Linked DNA regions of Homo sapiens. The protein of the gene in region 4 interacts with the protein of the main gene of each other region in a biochemical or structural test. Each region holds a gene or a part of one and is shown on either strand. Other genes may lie near its edges. The genes, in order: SIAH2, GSK3B, PPP1CC and SNCAIP.

Region 1 (3,898 bases), on a different chromosome or scaffold from region 4:
TGTCAGTGGTTTTCTGAGTCTCTATTCTATAAGAATGCAGTGGGGTAAAGCTATTACTTTGCAAGCTGAAATTTAAAAGGGCCAATTATTCCCCTGCAGACCAAGAACCAAGCTTAGGATGTGATCTTGGGGATGCTTTTGTGTGTGCATGTGTGTGAGTTGTATAAAGCTGGGGTGTGTGTCCCTCACCTTTGGTTGATCAATAATCCAAACTATTGGCAGGGCAGCTCAGCCAGTTAGTCTGGATAAACCAAACTTGAATGTATACATAGGCCCAGCGACCAACCAAGATGTGTTAGTTGTAGAGGATGAGAAACAACAGAGAGCCGTAAGGCCTGTATCAAACTTAAAACAAGGCAGATCTGTTTACCTAGCCCTTTGGCCTACAGTTTGAGGCTCCTAGAAATTATGGGACTGCCTTTTTACTGTCCCCACCTGCTCTCAGAATCTCTCATGGGCTGGCTCATGTGAAAAAAACCAACGTTGAATAAAGTACCAGAGCCCACATCTCAAGAGCTGCCACTGTTTGCCTGAAAGACCACCTCCCAGGGCCTTGATTTCCTCATCTATACAAATGAGAGATGAATCTGCTTGACTTCTAAGGACCTGTAGCTTCTAGCATTCTATGAAAAGAAGGGAGGCTATCTGGAATGTTATTGGATGCCCTCTATCTGCCAGTTACTTTGCAGGGGTCAGCTTTTACTAGTTTGCCTTTTTTTTTTTTCAGATGAGGAAACTCATGCCTACAGAGTGGTTAAATGTGAAGTGACTTGTCAAATCACACAGCTAGTAAGAGGACCAGTCCAAGCACCTGCATCTCAAAGGCACAGATGTTTTGTCCTACACCTTACTACGTAGGGATTTCGAATCTGAGTGTATACTCAAGATTCTGAATCATAACTCAAGGTTGACACCAGTAACAAAACCGTCTGGTTGGATGAGTTCACCAGATGGGCCTCTTATGGGACCATCCCAAAATGACAACATACATACTCACTATGAAATTCATTGGCAGGAATTTTGTAGGGCATGTAGGGTAGGAAGATGGGAGGGTGGGGGAAACCTACAAACCTAGTATTTTGTGGGGTATCATCACAGCTCTGGACTGCTTCAGTTGGCAAAAAAATGGATGTATTGCCAAATAACTATCCCACTTAGGTTTAGGGTAATTAATTAAAGGCTAGAGTGTTGCCAGCACCTTTGATATGGGGAACCGGATGCATTATTAGCTCAGATCTTTGGGTGTGGTGACTCATGCCTGTAATCCCAGCACTTTGGGAGGCAGAGGTGAGCAGATCACCTGAGGTCAGGAGTTCGAGACCAGCCTGGACAACATAGTGAAACCCTGTCTCTACTAAAAATACAAAAATTAGGGCCAGGCGCAGTGGCTCACGTCTGTAATCCCAGCACTTTGGGAGGCTGAGGTGGGTGGATCACCTGAGGTCAGGAGTTTGAGACCAGCCTGACCAACATGGAGAAACCCCGTTTCTACTAAAAATACAAAAAAGTTAGCTGGGCATGGTGGCACATGCCTGTAATATCAGCTACTCAGGAGACTGAGGCAGGAGAATTGCTTGAACCCGGGAGGCAGAGGTTGCAGTGAGCCAAGATCACGTCATTGCATTCCAGCCTGGGCAACAAGAGTGAAACTCAGTCTCATTAAAAAAAAAAAAAAAAAAAATAGCCAGGTGTGGTGGCAGGCACCTGTAATCCCAGCTACTCAGGAGGCTGCGGCAGGAGAATCGCTTGAACCCAGGAGGTGGAGGTTGCAGTGAGCTGAGATTGTGCCACTGCACTCCAGCCTGGGTGACAGAGCAAGACTCTGTGTCAAAAAAAAAAAAAAAAAAATGGAATGTCTAATAGTGTATGGCTTTCTTCCGCTTGGGGTATTTTTTAATCCATTCTGTGGCTTGTTCCATGCCTGAGAACTTTTGACATCCTGTGCCCAGACTTAAACTCACCCCTTCAGTGTGTGGGTTTAGGGGGAGAAGTGAAGGTTGACACATTCATATCAACAACATAGTCTACTTTACCATCCAACGATGTATTTTGATATCAGCCAAGTATTTCTCTCTACAACTGTGAGCAATGCTAATCCACTCCAGCCTTCTTACACTGTAATGATACCTTTTCTTTGTCCTCTCTGAAAGTTTCTAGTAGCATATCTCCAAATAATTATTGAATTTGAAAGCCTCAGCTGGACAAGTCTTCTCTGTGGTTGAATTGTGACAATGTCTGTGTTCCTTAAAAAAATAAAAAATAACATAAAACCAAGTAAGGTTAGACAAAACAGTTGAAAGTTTAAAATCCCTTGGCCTCATCTAGTTCAGTGGAGACAAACTTTCTAAATGGGAGGAGGGCCATGTAATGAGAGGAGAGGAGAGGAGAGAAGTATTTGATGCACTCATGGCCTCAGGGTCAGGGAGACCTGGAGGAGCAGTGGAGATGGTGGAGAGCCAGAGAACAGGTGCCACCTCCCAAGAGGCAGCCTTTACTCACCTCTGGCTGATTGGTGGGGTTGGGGATGTGGGTACAGGCATATCAGACCTTTAGATTTTTTTCAAGAAAAGCCAGAAATCTGGATCTTTTTTTTTTCCTTTAAGAGATGTCATCTCACTATGTTGCCCAGGCTGGTCTTGATACTCCTGAGCTCAAGCAATCCTCCTATCTCGGCCCCCCAAAGTGCTGGGATTACAAGTGTGAGCCACCGTGCCCAGCCTGGATTTTTTTTTTATGTTAAATATCTCGATTTTTTTTCTAGCATTGGCTGACTTCACATGTATAACCACCACTTGCAGACAAAGCGAACCACCACGTCTCCAGGCCAAATTCCAGCTGCCAGCATGCAGCCTCTGATCTGATTCTCTTGTAGAAGCATTCCTTGAGCCTGGAAGTTCTCATTTAACTCTTGCCATACATGAACTTTGGAACTCTGTTAGGCCCTAACTGTTGGTGATTTTGTAGCTTGTTTTCTTTTCATCTTCATTTTGCCAAGAGAATATTATTTTCTGGCCATCAGGAACCCTCAGATGATGGCCTTGTGACTAGATGTTTGACTCTATACAGGTCAGTTTCTTTTTTGCACCTGAGGGTCTTTAAGAGAAGGGATTGGACTAAATGATTATCCCAAGGTTCTTTCTTACCCTAAAATTTTAAAATATAGTAAGCGGTCCCAGTGAAAAGAACGTGAGCCAGGAAACAGAAGACCTGGGTTCTCGTCCTGGCTTTGTGTGACTTTGGTCCAGTCACATACTTCCCTGACCCTGTTTGTTCATCCATTAGAAAGAACGGAGATGACGCCTAGTTAGTGGGTGCTTGGAAATCAGATTAGAAGTGCTGTTGAGGGCTTTTGCTTCACCATATGGAATGGAATATGGGGGGTATTGGGGTGGTTGGAAGGTTGCAATGGGGGATCACCTGGAAGCAGGAAGCACAAGCCGATTAGCCAAAAATACTTTCAAAAATTTCTTCCTAACCCCCAGAATTCTCCTAACACAAAACTATTTACTTTGGAAGTTGTCCCTGAAGTCCTCACTACTGCCTGACATGGGCAAGGTTGGCCCATAAAAGCACAGAGTGAACTGGCAAGGACCAGAGTCCACATACATTAACTCCGGGGCTCAAGATTTTAAAGAACAAAATTGATAATACACCTTTCGTTGTAGTTTACTTTTTGTATAAAGCAGAAGCATTAGAATACTATATGGCAGTACTTAAGCTTAATGGTAATTCCACACATAACTGGCCAAAGATTTTTCACAGGTCACCATGACCTGGAACTAGAGTAAATAGTTATCAGTGAAAGTTGAGCCTTAGTATAACCAGAACAGAGGCTTACCAAAAGTTACAGCAGGTCTGGCCTATAAAATACCAGCCCAAGATTGGGATAGACTCTCCC
Region 2 (5,633 bases), on a different chromosome or scaffold from region 4:
TATTCCAATATACTTGTGTCTGTAATGCATTTGATGTGGTATAAGATTTAGAAACACAATTTAGTTCGGCTGGCACGGTGGCTCACGCCTGTAATCCCAGCACTTTGGGAGGCCGAGGCGGGTGGATCACGAGGTCAGGAGATCAAGACCATCCTGGCCAACGTGGGGAAACCCCGTCTCTACTAAAAATACAAAAATTAGCGGGGGCGTGGTGGTGTGCGTCTGTAGTCCCAGCTACTCAGGAGGCTGAGGCAGGAGAATCGTTTGAACCCATGAGGCGGAGATTGCAGTGAGCTGAGATCGTGCCACTGCACTCCAGCCTGGGCGACAGAGAGAGACTCTGTCTCAAAAAAAAAACAAAACAAAAGACAATTTAGTCGATTTGGGTTCTTAGTTTATAATCCCCCTTACCATTTTTGCTTATATTTTGGGAAGAGAGGTCAACTTCCAAACAATGTGCAGGTTCCAATTTTATAAGTGATTAAATCTTATATTTTTTGTATTGAATAGTTTTCTTAGCATGTTTGGTTTGATCACTTGAAGTAATGATGTATTTGTCTTGAAACTAGTTTTGTCAAACCAACTTTTTATTTCCAGAGTACCATGGTTAACAACAGCACAAAGCCAAGTCCTTAACGTGTTCCCTTAATAACATGGTCTAAGGTTAATTTCTTGATTCTTATTTCAAATCAATTCAGTAATAAAAAGTACACTTTTTTTTTTTTTGAGATGGAGTCTCGCACTGTTTCCTGGGCTGGAGTGCCATGGCGTGATCTGGGCTTACTGCAACCTCTGCCACCCAGGTTCAAGCGATTTTCCTGCCTCAGCCTCCCAAGTAGTTGGGATTACAGGTGCCTGCCACCACACCTGGCTAATTTTTTGTATTTTTAGTAGAGACGGAGTTTCACTGTGTTGGCCAGGCTGGTCTCAAAATCCTGACCTTGTGATCTTCCCACCTCGGCCTCCCAAAGTGCTGGGATTACAGGCGTGAACCACCACATGTGGCCGAACTAAATTGTGTTTCTAATTTAGTTTTCCTGAAGAATAACAGCTATGCATCAATGTGGAATTGTGTTATTTGGAATCTCACCTTATTGGAATTGGCTGGTAATTGACAGTAAACCAGAAGTGCTCCTGAGCAGCTAATATCTGCAGACAAATGGAGTGTAAACTTTGCTCATAGGTTAGTTTTCAGGCTTTTATTAACGGTTCCTTGTTATTATTTAACATATAGTTGTAATTCATTGAGTTGTCTGGGTTTTTTTGAAATCACAGATCAGGGGAATGGATAGGTACTGATTAAGCATTATGCTACTGAAAAGAATGGATGATTAGGGGAAACAAGCATATTGGGATTACTTAGTGTATGTAGGGTATGTAGGTTCATATAGTTCCAGGGTAAATCATTCTGATAATTGTTGAAAATGTTCACCCAGAGAAATTTTTTTTTTTTTTTGGAGACAGGGTCTCGCTGTGTTGCCTATGCCTAGCCTGGAGTGCAGTGGCACAGTCTTGGCTCACTGCAGCCTCTGCCTCCTGGGCTCGGGTGATCTTTTAACCTCAACCTCTGGAGTAACTGGGACTATAGGCATGCGCCAACATGCCTGGCTAGTTTTTGTAGTTTTTATAGAGAGGGGGTTTCGCCATCTTGCCCAGGCTGGTCTTGAACTCCTGGAATCAAGCAATCCTGCCTCAGCCTCCCACAGTGCTGGGATTACAGTCATGAGCCACTGCACCCATCTGAGAATATTAATTCTCTTTTAAAGAGGCAGGAGGCAGAAAAATCTCTTGTGGAAACCTGGGCTTCTGCATAAACTACATAAAATATCTGTAATTTGTTGATCACTGAAGTGATGAAGAGAACTGGGTCACCTCTGTCTGATTCACCATCTTCTAGTTGGATTTCAGCAGTATGGATAAAGGTACTAAAGTCTTTAGTGTGCTAGCCCAGGGTATTGTTTCCAACTCTTTCTTCCATTGTCCATCTACATTTATTAACTCAGCAGCAGAGTTTTATCTGATTTAAGATTTGTTGTCTTACTATTTCTGTTTTTTTTTTTTTCCTCCTTAGTATATATGGAATTGCTGCTTGGATTTTGGCTGGCTTGTACCTTTTGTTTGTGGACTGCTTAGAAGGCACTGCATGGAGTCATTTAAGCTTTCTTATGAATTATGAATAGCTATGTAGAGAGGAACTTTTCTAGATACATTTATGGCCTATGAGAATTGAAAAGCTGGGTATCTTAATTGTTAGGCTGAAGAAAAAGGGTGATAGTGGCAAAGTAGTTTTTCTTTTGGAGGTCTGAGAAATTCTTAGGGGCTTAATTGGCTAATATAACTAGAAAGGTTGGGTGATTTAGGTTTTTTTCCAAGGAAAGGTATCTTATTTAAATGCAACACTGTCTGCTTCCTGTTATTTTATAAAATTAGTTAATACTTTTTTTTTTTTCTCAAGACGGAATGTCACTGTGTCGCCCAGGCTGGGGTGCAGTGGCACAATCTTGGCTCACTGCAACCGCCACCTCGAGGCCTGGTTCAAGGAATTCCCCTGCCTCAGCCTCCTGAGTAGCTGGGATTACAGGCATATGCCACCATTCCCCGCTAATTTTTTTGTATTTGTAGTAGAGATGGGGTTTCACCATGTTGGCCAGACTAGTCCTGAACTCCTGACCTCAGGCAATCTGCTGGCCTCAGCCTCGCAAAGTACAGCAAAATCAGTTAATATTTTTAATTGATTAACACTTTCTTCATGACCTGTGTTGAAGTTATTGAGTTGAGTCAATTGAATTTCTAATGCTAGATTTTGAGTATGTGGTGTGAGCACCTGAAGAGTTGGAGGTACTGGAATTATGTCTGACATCAGACTGATAGTATTTGCAGGGACATTTGCCCTAGTGGAATTCAGGGTTTTCACATTCTATACATTACTTAAATTATGAAGGAAAGGGGGAAGCTTTGAGTTGGTAGACTTTTAATAATAAGATATAATTACATGTATATAGAAGAGCAACGTACTGTATATCATATTCTCATAATATATGGTAATAACGGCAGTAATTATTGAGTGCGGTGTGCCAGATAATTGCATGTTTTATTTACCTATTTTGCTTTAAATTTTAAAAAATGTAATTTACTCACATGGTTCAAAATTTTAAAGATATTCAGTGAAGTCTTCTCTCCTGCTCTGCAACAACCAGTTCTCTTTCCTGGAGACCACTGGCATTACAATTTCTTATGTGTCCTTTCATAGGTATTCTGAATCTTTACGGATTAATGATTTCTATAGTAGACTTGCATTTTGTGTATACATACATAAATTAACAATAGCTTTAGCAGAAGTGTTAGAATTAAAACAAATTTAAATCAGTAACTCTAGAAAATTGCTATTTTTTAACCTATTAAATTAGTAAATACTTATTTCTCTAAATATAAGTTAGTTGGAGAATAAGTGCAAAGATGACAGAGCTCCTCTCGTGGCAATTAGAGGTAAAATGTTAATAGTCTTAACCAATGAACAATTAATAGCACATTTAAAATAGATGTTTATTTCATAATAAAAAGACAGGATAATTTTTTAACTTTCTATTTTTCTAACATCTTAGATGAGAAAACCTGTTCTCTTGAGAGATCAGAGGCGCAGAGTGCGTCAGTGTCAATGAAGCCTGTGCCTTTTACTTCTTTAAGAGCGTACGGTTTCATTCTGCTCCTAAATCAAGCACCCCTTAGTTGTTGAATAAAAATTACTTTTATAAAGGAATATATGATTTAAAGAAATCAAATAGTGCAGAAGGGCTTATGATGGAAAGTAATCTTCTGTCCTCCAGTCCTACTTCTTAGAAGCAACATTGGCTATGACAGCTGTTTCCTCTAGTAGTTTTTGTCATATTTTTAATTATATGCTTTTTATCTATTTCTTAAAATTAATTTTTTTGTCTTATTGTGGTAGACATCATTTATTGTCATGCCCATCTCCCTTTTGCTTTCATACTGATATAATTATGCCACTATTTAAAAACTATTATTTATTTAAATTATTATTCAAATTATTCTCAGTATGTAGACATGGAACAGTATTCTATGTAGAAACAAGTAGTATACAGTGATCACATTTCCTTATGAGAATAGCTTTATTGAGATATAATTCACATACCGTAACATTCATTTTTTCATTACTCAGGTGTTCATAGACTTGTGTAACCATCCCAACCATCTAATTTTAGAGCACTTTTATCATTTCAGAGATAAAGCTTATACCCATTAGCAGCCATTCCCTATGTTCCCCTTCCCCACAGCTCTAGGCAACCACTAATTTACTCTCTGTCTTTATAGATTTGCCTGTTCTGGACATTTCATATAAATGGATTTATGTAATACATGGCCATTTATGACTGTTTTCTTTCTCCCATGTTATAGCATGTATTAGTACTTCATTCCTTTTTATTGCTGAATAACATTTCATTGTATGGAAATCCTGCGATTTGTTTATTAGTTGATGGACATTTGGGTTGTTTCTGCTTTTTGACTAGTATGAATATGCTGCTGTGAACATTTGTGTGCAAGTTTTTGTGTGGACATATGTTTTCAGATCTTTTGGGGTATATACCTAAGTAGTGGAATGGCTGGGTGATATGGTAACTCTCTGTTTAAAGTGTTAAGGAGCTATTAAGCTGTTTCAAAGTGACAGTCACATTTTTTCCTTTGCTTTTAATCTTTTTAGACTTTATTGTTGCCATTTTCTTTCTTTTTTTTTAAATACTGTTTGTAATAATTATAATCTCAATTCTTCCCCCCAAATGTACCAATTTATCAGACATTCTCTGGATTTCTACCTGCCTCCTGCCCCTTTCTTTTCCTGGAGTGTCCTTTTTCCTGGAGCCCTCGTCCAACTGCTGGGATCTGATCTAGTTGTTCTCCAGGCCCCGTTGTACAGCTGTCATCCTCTGACTTCTTTCGCTGCTCTTCAGGGTTGGCTCTCCAGTTTCCTGGATCCCATATCTCTAAATAACATTTCATTGTATGGAAATCCCATGATTTGTTTGTTAGTTGAATAGTTCTTATCTGATAACTGTTTGATAAATATACCTGGAAAAGTTGTTCATTGTTTTTTTCCATATTTGTTCCAAAAGGGCAGTTAAGAAGCTATATACTTTTTGGGCAGATACCCTCACCCTTGCAGTATCTAGATACTGAGAAATAGATGTTGGAAGGTTACTTTGTATCATTTTATTAAGTGATTACCATGCAAACATAAGGCAAGTACAAAAATCTGAAAAATATTAATATTAAGTAATTGTTTAGACTAGAGCTATTCAGAAGAAATATTATATAAGCCAAAAAGGTGAATTATATATGTAATTTTAATTTTCTATGAACCACTTTGAAAAATAGACACAAGTGAAATTAATTCTAGTAATATATTTTATTTAACCTAGTGTATCTAAACTAATAATATATCAAGATGTAATCAATATAAAAATTATTGAGATATTTTACATTCTTTTTTTGGGTAGTAAATCTTTATAACCTAGTGAGTGTTTTACACTTAAAGAACATACTAATTTGGGGGCCGGGCGCGGTGGCTCATGCCTGTAATCCCAGCACATTGGGAGACCGAGGCGGGTGGATCACGAGGT
Region 3 (5,489 bases), on a different chromosome or scaffold from region 4:
TGCAGAAGTGGTTGCAAAATTTCTCCATAAGCATGATTTGGATCTTATATGTAGAGCCCATCAGGTATTGATTTTGAATTTTACATGTACACTTAAGAGCATGTGTGTGAGCACAGATTCTCCTTGTTGATTTTGGTGGGTAGGTATTGCTTATTTATACAAAGTGTTTCTGGAACACAAGATATCAGGCTCAATGGGAAACTGAAACATGGTTTTACTCACCTAATATTTGCACCTATTTATATTGAAAAAATTTTCTCTTCAAGGTGGTTGAAGATGGATATGAATTTTTTGCAAAGAGGCAGTTGGTCACTCTGTTTTCTGCGCCCAATTATTGCGGAGAGTTTGACAATGCAGGTGCCATGATGAGTGTGGATGAAACACTAATGTGTTCTTTTCAGGTAGAGCATGCTTTCAACATGATTTCCTTTTAATATGTTTACACTTTGCTGATTGAAAAATATAATTGCTACTTTTTGCCTAGTGTTCACTTATGCTGAGTAGGCTAAGTTTTTATTTTCCCTTAACCAGTGTGTATTATAGTTGAATAATGTGTGGATCCCTTGTAAAAGAAAAAATTAATTATGGCACCTTTTCCCAGTGTTGAATTATAAATTTTTGCATTGCATATTGGCTCCTTAATGCTTATGGCTCTTTTACTGTAAATCTAAAACCTTAATGACAATGTAATGTTCAGCTAAAATTAAATCACCACTTGAATGTGAAAAGTACTGAGTGCCTTGTGCTATGTGTTTACTTAGTTCTGCCCTCTAGTCTAACTTCCACAAAACTTCTGTTAATGTACCATGACATCATTTGGCCTTCAGTTGGCACAAAAGCATTATTTAGAATCTGCCTCAGCCTTTTTCTCATTTGCTTATTATGATACTTGTACAACTTCAAGCCAGCCTAGTCATAAACATAAATACAGCCACCAAATCATGTGGCACTCATCAGTTAAATGAATTAAAATAGTTTTTTACCAATTATCAGAGAGAACTTGCAGCTTTCAAAATTCCAAAGATTGTGCAAGGATCCCCTACAGGTTGGAGAAACACTTTTGTAAAGAACTTTTTCCCCTGTATCAGAAGGAGTAGCTAAAGATACTACCAGGTGTAGACTTCAGAAGATTGTCATTATACTCAGAGGCAAAATAATTTGTCCAGATAATAGATTTTATCTGTTCGTCATAGCGTTAATTACCAAATGTTTACATTCAACATAGCTTGTGTTAATATGCTAGGGGGGCTTTTACAGTTGTTGGGGCAGTTGTGAACACCATCTGAACAGAAGATCTGAATGAAATTTAAGGACTCTTAAGATTTGGGGTTGAGTATATTTCCTAAATTAACTGTCTTTTGAATCTCCAGATTTTAAAGCCTGCAGAGAAAAAGAAGCCAAATGCCACGAGACCTGTAACGCCTCCAAGGGGTATGATCACAAAGCAAGCAAAGAAATAGATGTCGTTTTGACACTGCCTAGTCGGGACTTGTAACATAGAGTATATAACCTTCATTTTTAAGACTGTAATGTGTACTGGTCAGCTTGCTCAGATAGATCTGTGTTTGTGGGGGCCCTTCCTTCCATTTTTGATTTAGTGAATGGCATTTGCTGGTTATAACAGCAAATGAAAGACTCTTCACTCCAAAAAGAAAAGTGTTTTGTTTTTTAATTCTCTGTTCCTTTTGCAAACAATTTTAATGATGGTGTTAAAGCTGTACACCCCAGGACAGTTTATCCTGTCTGAGGAGTAAGTGTACAATTGATCTTTTTTAATTCAGTACAACCCATAATCATGTAAATGCTCATTTTCTTTAGGACATAAAGAGAGCCCTAGGGTGCTCTGAATCTGTACATGTTCTTGTCATAAAATGCATACTGTTGATACAAACCACTGTGAACATTTTTTATTTGAGAATTTTGTTTCAAAGGGATTGCTTTTTCCTCTCATTGTCTTGTTATGTACAAACTAGTTTTTATAGCTATCAACATTAGGAGTAACTTTCAACCTTGCCAGCATCACTGGTATGATGTATATTTAATTAAAGCACACTTTTCCCCGACCGTATACTTAAAATGACAAAGCCATTCTTTTAAATATTTGTGACTCTTTCCTAAAGCCAAAGTTTCTGTTGAATTATGTTTTGACACACCCCTAAGTACAAGGTGGTATGGTTGTATACACATGCTGCCTTCTTGGGGATTCAAAAACAGGTTTTTGATTTTGAATAGCAATTAGTGATATAGTGCTGTTTAAGCTACTAACGATAAAAGGTAATAACATTTTATACAATTTCCATATAGTCTATTCATTAAGTAATCTTTTTACAGTTGCATCAGGCCTGAACCCGTCCATTCAGAAAGCTTCAAATTATAGAAACAATACTGTTCTATACGAGTGACCGATTATGCTTTCTTTGGCCTACATTCTTTATTCTGCGGTGAAGTTGAGGCTTATAAGTTAAAACAAAGGAACTAACTTACTGTCCACCAGTTTATACAGAACTCACAGTACCTATGACTTTTTTAAACTAAGATCTGTTAAAAAAGAAATCTGTTTCAACAGATGACCGTGTACAATACCGTGTGGTGAAAATGAATTCAGACTTATTAAATGATGAACTTGTTAAATCTTCTCAGTGTCTATTTATCAGCACAATACACACAGGAGAACTGTTGATGGCATATTGAATAGATTTTCCTGAATAAATTGCTCTGGAAACCACACGGTTGCATTTTGGTTTTGCTTCTTTCAAATAGTCTGTTTTCCAAAGATGGATTATAATACAGATACTAATACTCTTTGAGTTGTAACCTGGAGACATCTATTTGTGTAATAGAGTGATGAGGTGGAACGATCCTCCTCTACCATTTGGGGAGATGGGGATTAATCTGTGTCCATAGTTTTCTTACTGTCTGGGTTCACTTGAACTTAGTGGCGAATTTGAAAGCAGCTCACTTTGTTTTCTGAGTCAGCCACCTATATTTTCATGCACAGTTCTTTGATCTCTTCCCCCTTCCCTGGTTTATATGGAACACAGTATCATGTCATATTTTGTCACAAGTATGTATCTTAATTTCTCAAAGGTACGCTAAAAATGAGTGAAGAGCATGTCATTTGAAAAGCTTTTTTTCCTGTTACAAAGTGGTCTCCCTGAGGGCGTTGGCAGAGGACCTAGCGAGGAACTCTTTGAAGGACACAGAAGAGCACAGGGCCATGGACTCCCCTCTGCTAACAAGCCCCGGTCCTGAGGCATCTGGACCCTGCCATGCTCCCATCAAAGAGGGAAGGGGGACCTCATTACCTGCCTGCTCCACATTGACAATATCCAAACTTGTGCTGTTTCACTTTTACGTAATATTCTCCCAGACTTCTTTGACTATAGGAAGAAAACAGTGAATGATAATTGTGTCAAAGGCAAATTCTGCACATCTTTATGTCCTGAATGTTAATGAATTGATACTAGGATTTCAAAATGCTATAAAGTAAAATTGGGCTGCTCTACTAGGATTATATCATTATTGGAGTGTGGTATCAGGCTCAAGTTTTTCTTAAGGAACATTTATCAAGTACTAAGGATTATATCATTATTGGAGTGTGGTATCTGGCTCAAATTTTTCTTAAGGAACATTGGTCAAGTAGAAGACAAGATTAATCTTTGGTTTTAGGACCTGAGATCATTAGGAGAGACTCAGTTTGAAATCTGTTTGACAGCAGAACTTGAGATGTGTGTGATAACCCAAGTCTTGGCCCCTCCTACCTGATTTGAGTGAGTGACCTGAATGCTGAGCCACTGTGTTCCTAGCTATGAAACGTCCATAGCAGAAGCCGTCTCACATTGTGAATCTTGAGTGAAGTTGTGTGGTGTCTTTAGAATGCTCAACTCGGTGGTATTTGCTAAATGTTTGCTTTTGGTTATCTTATCGATCCCAGTTCTTTCGTGTCTTTGCACATCTCGGTTGGCTGAGTTTGAAGTGTCACTTGCCTTTGCTTTGCTTTGCACCTGATACCAAGCCATGGATAGCTAAGTATGTCTGAGCATTTACTGCATAAGGGAACACCATCATGGATGTTTTCAGCATATGCAAAAGAAGTAACTAGGAAAGAGGAAGTTGTAATTATTAGTGTGATACTATTCTATTAAGTGTTTTGGTTTGGTTTTGTTTTTGTCAAGTATTCTGGGTCACAAGATGACAGCACCATTACAAAACCATACAGAAAGGCAGGTGCTAGGCATCCTTAGTCGCTCAATCATCTATGTAATACCCTCCCATAGAAATTGCTGATTTGGTACACAAACTAGGCCTGCCCATGTCTAGTTGCAGTGGACAGCACAGATGCTCACATATAACCCTTGTTCTTGAAGTACCTTGATTTAAGGCCAGAGTTCTCGAGTAACATACACATAAATGGGATATGGAACACAGGGACTAGGAAAAAATTACTGAATGCTGAGCCATGAAGAAGGCACATGATTTAAACTGATGGAAAGGAATATCAATCAAATTTCTCAATGTGGGTCCATGATGAGCGTTTGAAAGGGAATTCAGTTTGCTGGGAAGTGAAGATACAAGCTACCAAGTTAAGGCATCATGATACCAAAAAACACAAAGGAACCATTGCAGGGAAGTGCTGCATGAAAAATCTTAGGTTTATTTTGGCAGTTTGCAGACACCATGTGAATTGAGACACGGAGACAAGGGCCATGTAATCCAAGTATCACCTGAAATTAGTAGAAGGGACAAAGCTGAGGATCTGCATCAGAACAAAGAAGGAATGTCTTCCTCATGTTTGGGTCTATAGAAGACATTAAAGAAAACTTCCAGAAAGTGGGTTTGAGGCCGGGCATGGTGGCTCACACCTGTAATCCCAGCACTTTGGGAGGCTGAGGCAGGCGGATTACAAGGTCAGGAGATCGAGACCATCCTGGCTAACACGGTGAAACCCTGTCTCTACTAAAAAAAATAGAAAAAATTAGCCGGGCATGGTGATGGGCGCATGTAGTCCCAGTTACTCAGGAGCCTGAGGCAGGAGAATGGCGTGAACCTGGGAGGTGGAGCTTGCAGTGAGCCGAGATCACGCCACTGCACTCCAGCCTGGGCGACAGAGCGAGACTCTTAAACAAACAAAGTGGGTTTGAAGTGCTATGTCTCCATTTTCCTATCTTGAGGAAAAGACCCAAAACTCAACCTCATGTACCAGCTGGCTTGAATCTGCAGGGGTGGTTTTGATGAGTAAGAACTTTCAGTCCTGCAAATCAGATGTATGCATCAGCCCAGACTGGAAGAACATGGCACCCTCTGCCCCAGGCTTTGGTTTCCTTCTCACCCACAGAAGAGGAATAACTAGAATACTTAACGATGGGATTGTGAGGATTAGCCCACCAAAAATCTACAACTTGCCTTAGTCATAAGCATTCAGGAAACAGCCCTGGTATAAGACCAATGAATAGCCCTAAGATTTAGACCAATGGCAACACACAGGAACT
Region 4 (3,997 bases):
TCTCTCCTCAGAATTCCTTTTCAATTACTATTTAGCATCTTAGGCACTCAATTATGAAATGTGTTCTTCGATGTTTAGTATCATTTAATTTTCCATGGGTCCTATTTCCTATGAAAATGTTCCTTACGAAAAGACTATGGATTTTAAATTGCTGTATTACAAATAAGCACAAAGTAAATGCACGATAACTATTTAGGAATCAATTAGTACTTTCCCAGGGCCTAGCTATCAGTCTTATCAATTAAAAATTATTTTAACACATATTTTGATCATTAATTTCAAAAACGTAAAAAACCGCTAAGATGCAAACCATAAAATATAAATCTAGTTACCTAATCTATAAAGTGAAAAATCATGCATAGTACATATGATACTAGCAAACAAGTTTTTGATTCATTTTCCATAAATAACTTCCTGCAAGTGAATCTGCATATAAATCAAATGGGCACAAGAAAATAAGTATATAAGGGTAAAAGTTTCACAGAAGCAACTATTTGATTTTCACCAGGATATCATTTTTCTCCCAAGACACATATTTCTCCTATGTGGTTTGCAACTGTAACCTGACAAACTGCCAAAAACAAAGCTTCTATTCTAAGAGTGTTACTGATTCTCTTGTTGCTATTCAATTAGATTTTGCATTTAAAAGAGAAATTCCCTTGTGTTTCCTATAATGATGCACCTGCTCCTTGGGAGATTTCCTCTTTTGACAAGAAATGCCTTAAATCTGGCAAGAAAAACAGCTCCAGGCTTTTTCTGCTAATATCAAAGATCATTTGTTTGTATTAGATGTTTGTGTGGGTTTCCCTTAAGAGCAGTAAAGTACTGCTACAATTTCTTCCAAAACAATAGCACGCACAAAGTTTCTTGGCTTGCATTTCCACTGTACACCTGCACCAGAACAACTGTCTGGAATTAGGAAAGTTGTGACAGAGTAGACAGAGAAATGCATTTGCTTTAGTCACTTCCTTTTGGATATCAACAAATGGTAACCGTCAAATTCATGAATGCAGCATCATTTCAAATCTACTATCTGTAACTTTTCTTCATGAAATGCTTGCTACGGAGAAAATGAAATTTACATTCAAAATTATACCCCTTCTTTTCAAAATCCCATGCTATATTTTATTTCTAACTGAGGTGTCCAAAAGATCCTTAAGAGAAGCACTATCTTTTACTTTCTGATTCCAGACCTGTTAATGCATACATATTTAGTTATGGGTAATCCTCAGTTAATACTCCCTTTCCAGAGAGACTTCCGCGATCAGTACCGAAATATTGCACCTTCCAAAAAGTCTTGAGGACTGCTTAAAGGTGTCTCCTTGTACTCTAACCATGCTGAATGTAATTTAACATTGAGATGCATCAGAAACAGTCAATAGACTTTCTCTCCCAGATGTGTACACATTAGCATACTGCTTTCCTACACCTTGTTCTTTGCCTTTTAAATTTTCAATATGTACAAATGAAATACAGATTTCAACCCATTCCCAATTGGGATGTCTGCTCCATAAAAGAAAAATAGGTTTTTCCCTTCCTACAGATTCAGCAACGAAAGTAGTGCTTGAAAATTACGTGTTTAGAGTGACACCTTGGAGAACTGACATACTGTGCACACATGTAATCCTCATAAACTTCCCCAGACAGCCCTTATTTCATTTTGCAAACTGCACCCTGGCCAGGCTCCACGGCACGTGGTGTGTGGCGAGACTGTCCTGCAGCAGTTCTCCCGTCCTCCGGGCTCTTTGATGGGCACTTGTCAGTAACAGCCAAGAGGAATCCGATCCTGCCTCCAGCAAGTGAAAAGGGGCACCGACAGTAATGCTTCCTTAATTAACTTTCCCAAGGAAAGCAACGTTCCCACAGGAAAAAACAACACGTTTCCCCCCTCCTAGCCGTCCATTGAAAATGAGCAACAATGCTGTTGCCTTTTTGTTTCCTAAGACTTTCTTCGCTGCAAGCAGTAGCGTGTTCCTCAAAGAATGCTAGTATTTCCTGTGGAAACTGTATGGCTGCCAGTAATGGCTCATAATTTTCCCTCTTTTCTCTTCGTAAAAATGAAATAAACAAAATGTGGCCTTTGACAATTAGCTAAAATTGGGTTCACCCCACTTACCACCTGCAGATGAAAGTCATCGCCAAGAGACAAGGCCAAGAGAGAAACATTCCCCTCTGAAATCCACGCGGACCAGCCTGGGACGCAGAACAGCACTAGAGGGAGGCTGGCGGAGCCCGGGCTGGACAGGGCAGTCGGGGAGCTGGTGCTGATGAGCGAGGGGCGGCAGCAACACCAGACGTCCCTTTTCTACAGCTATTATTACCGTTGTTAGTACTGTCGCTATTACTATTACTTCGCCCCTCCTTATCTCAGCTTTTCCGAGCCGCGGAACTGCCCATCCCTGCCTGCGATAAGATCCCGGGTGACAGCAAGAATAAGAACCACATGAGGCGGGCAAATGAAAAGAACAATCCTTTGGAAACCGAGGCGGGGGTTGTTTCCCCCTTTCCCCAGTAAAGCAGCCGCTGCCGCCACCACTGTTACTGTTACTATAGAGACCTCCCCCTCAAACCCTTTCTGCAGAGGCGCCTCTGCTGCCCGGAGCAGCCGAGACTCGCGGCACAAAGGGGTCCCGGGGCTTGGGGAGCACGGGGCGACACCCGCCGGGGTCGCCTGGTGCAAACTTGGAAAGGCTGAGCCGCTGGCTGCCCGCCTCCCGCCTCCCCGCGGCGTCCGCTTGGGACCTGGACTCACCCGGGGCGCCCGGCGCGCCGGCGGCTCAGGAGCGCGAAGGGACTGACTGACCGACCGACGGACCGCAGCGGCAGGAGCAGAACAGCCTCAGCCGAAGTAGGCGGGCGGTGGAGGCGCTGCCGCGGCCCCGCTACGTCACAATGCGGCCCGGCCGCGGGCGCCGCTCCCCGGGCCCCCCAACGGGCGCGCGCGGGCGGGGGCAGCCTGGGCGGCCGCGGCCCGAAGCCGGCGCTGGGGGACAAGGAACGCAGCGCGGGCGCCCGGCCGGGGACGGGGGCGCGGCCACCACTGCCACTGCGGAGGCTGCCGGGGCCGCCGCGCCCTCAGGCTGCGCTGCGCCCCTGCGGCCGCCCCCAGGCCAGCGAGCCCCGCTCGGCCTGACTGACAGCGACCCTCCCCGCGGCGCCCCCGGCTCGGCCCACGCCCCTCCCTCGCCGCTTCCTCACCAGGGATCCCCCGGCCTGCCCGCCGGCTCCTGTCCACGAACCTGCTCTTTCTTTACCTTTCGCTCTTTTTACCTCGACTGCCGTTGCTTTTCCCCAGCTGGGGCTCTCCTCTCCTCCCCGCCTACTTTTTGTCCGCGCTTCCCACTTTTCTCCTCCTGCCCCCCACCCCCTTCCTTGCTTCTTGGCCTCTCCCCCTGGAAATCGCCCCCTCACCGTGATCCAAGCGTTAACCGCTGCCATCTCATTGGTCCCCAGACCATTCCAGGGTTCCAGCATAAACTGGGAGAAGAGACTCGGGAAGGCGGGGAACGGAAGGTGGGCATTGCCCTGGGAAACTCATGTCTGAGAAGCCTTTTGGCAGAGTATTTTGCGTTGGCACGGAGTCTTCACCCCCACCCCTCCCCCCGAAGCTCGCCCACCCCTGAGGACGTGGCCAAGGAGAGGAGGGCAAGGGTGGCTTTGCCTGCCTGGAATGTTCTGTGCTCAAGTGTGGGTGGATGGAGAAGATGTTAGGCTGAAATAAAGACTTTTTAATTCAACGACGTTTCAGTGTACCAATGGCCCTACAGTAATATTATCTTTACTTTTATTGTCTCTTAATTGTTGAGGGATTGGGGGTGGGAGGCTGCTGGATGAGGCGTAAGCAACGCCTGCAGTGGTGACTACTTCTTTCCTTATTTCCGAAATGAAATCAGGGGTTGTGGAAGCATTTATGGTAACCTTGGCTCGCGACTGTCTCGCTGTTGCCCTCTGGAAAGCTTTAAATGGTCTTTGAGAAATCTCTTTCCCAGGCGAGATG

What was found.
Region 1: of the proteins of SNCAIP (region 4) and SIAH2, one has a biochemical effect on the other in vitro, tested with the Homo sapiens proteins (one study listed by BioGRID).
Region 2: of the proteins of SNCAIP (region 4) and GSK3B, one has a biochemical effect on the other in vitro, tested with the Homo sapiens proteins (one study listed by BioGRID).
Region 3: the proteins of SNCAIP (region 4) and PPP1CC interact in far-western blotting, tested with the Homo sapiens proteins (one study listed by BioGRID).

What each region holds. Positions count from the first base shown.
Region 1 is NC_000003.12:150,756,520-150,760,417, reverse strand, and holds part of SIAH2 (E3 ubiquitin-protein ligase SIAH2), read left to right. Parts: intron 1-3,898. UniProt on the Homo sapiens protein: E3 ubiquitin-protein ligase that mediates ubiquitination and subsequent proteasomal degradation of target proteins.
Region 2 is NC_000003.12:120,082,625-120,088,257, reverse strand, and holds part of GSK3B (glycogen synthase kinase-3 beta), read left to right. Parts: intron 1-3,609; exon of another isoform or gene 3,610-3,694; intron 3,695-5,633. UniProt on the Homo sapiens protein: Constitutively active protein kinase that acts as a negative regulator in the hormonal control of glucose homeostasis, Wnt signaling and regulation of transcription factors and microtubules, by phosphorylating and inactivating glycogen synthase (GYS1 or GYS2), EIF2B, CTNNB1/beta-catenin, APC, AXIN1, DPYSL2/CRMP2, JUN, NFATC1/NFATC, MAPT/TAU and MACF1.
Region 3 is NC_000012.12:110,717,047-110,722,535, reverse strand, and holds the end of PPP1CC (serine/threonine-protein phosphatase PP1-gamma catalytic subunit), read left to right. Parts: coding exon 1-64; intron 65-266; coding exon 267-401; intron 402-1,370; coding exon 1,371-1,460; 3' UTR 1,461-2,331; coding exon of another isoform or gene 2,332-2,402; 3' UTR 2,403-2,856; downstream 2,857-5,489. UniProt on the Homo sapiens protein: Protein phosphatase that associates with over 200 regulatory proteins to form highly specific holoenzymes which dephosphorylate hundreds of biological targets.
Region 4 is NC_000005.10:122,311,040-122,315,036, reverse strand, and holds the start of SNCAIP (synphilin-1), read right to left. Parts: upstream 2,801-3,997; 5' UTR 2,753-2,800; exon of another isoform or gene 2,117-2,752; intron 1-2,116. UniProt on the Homo sapiens protein: Isoform 2 inhibits the ubiquitin ligase activity of SIAH1 and inhibits proteasomal degradation of target proteins. Isoform 2 inhibits autoubiquitination and proteasomal degradation of SIAH1, and thereby increases cellular levels of SIAH.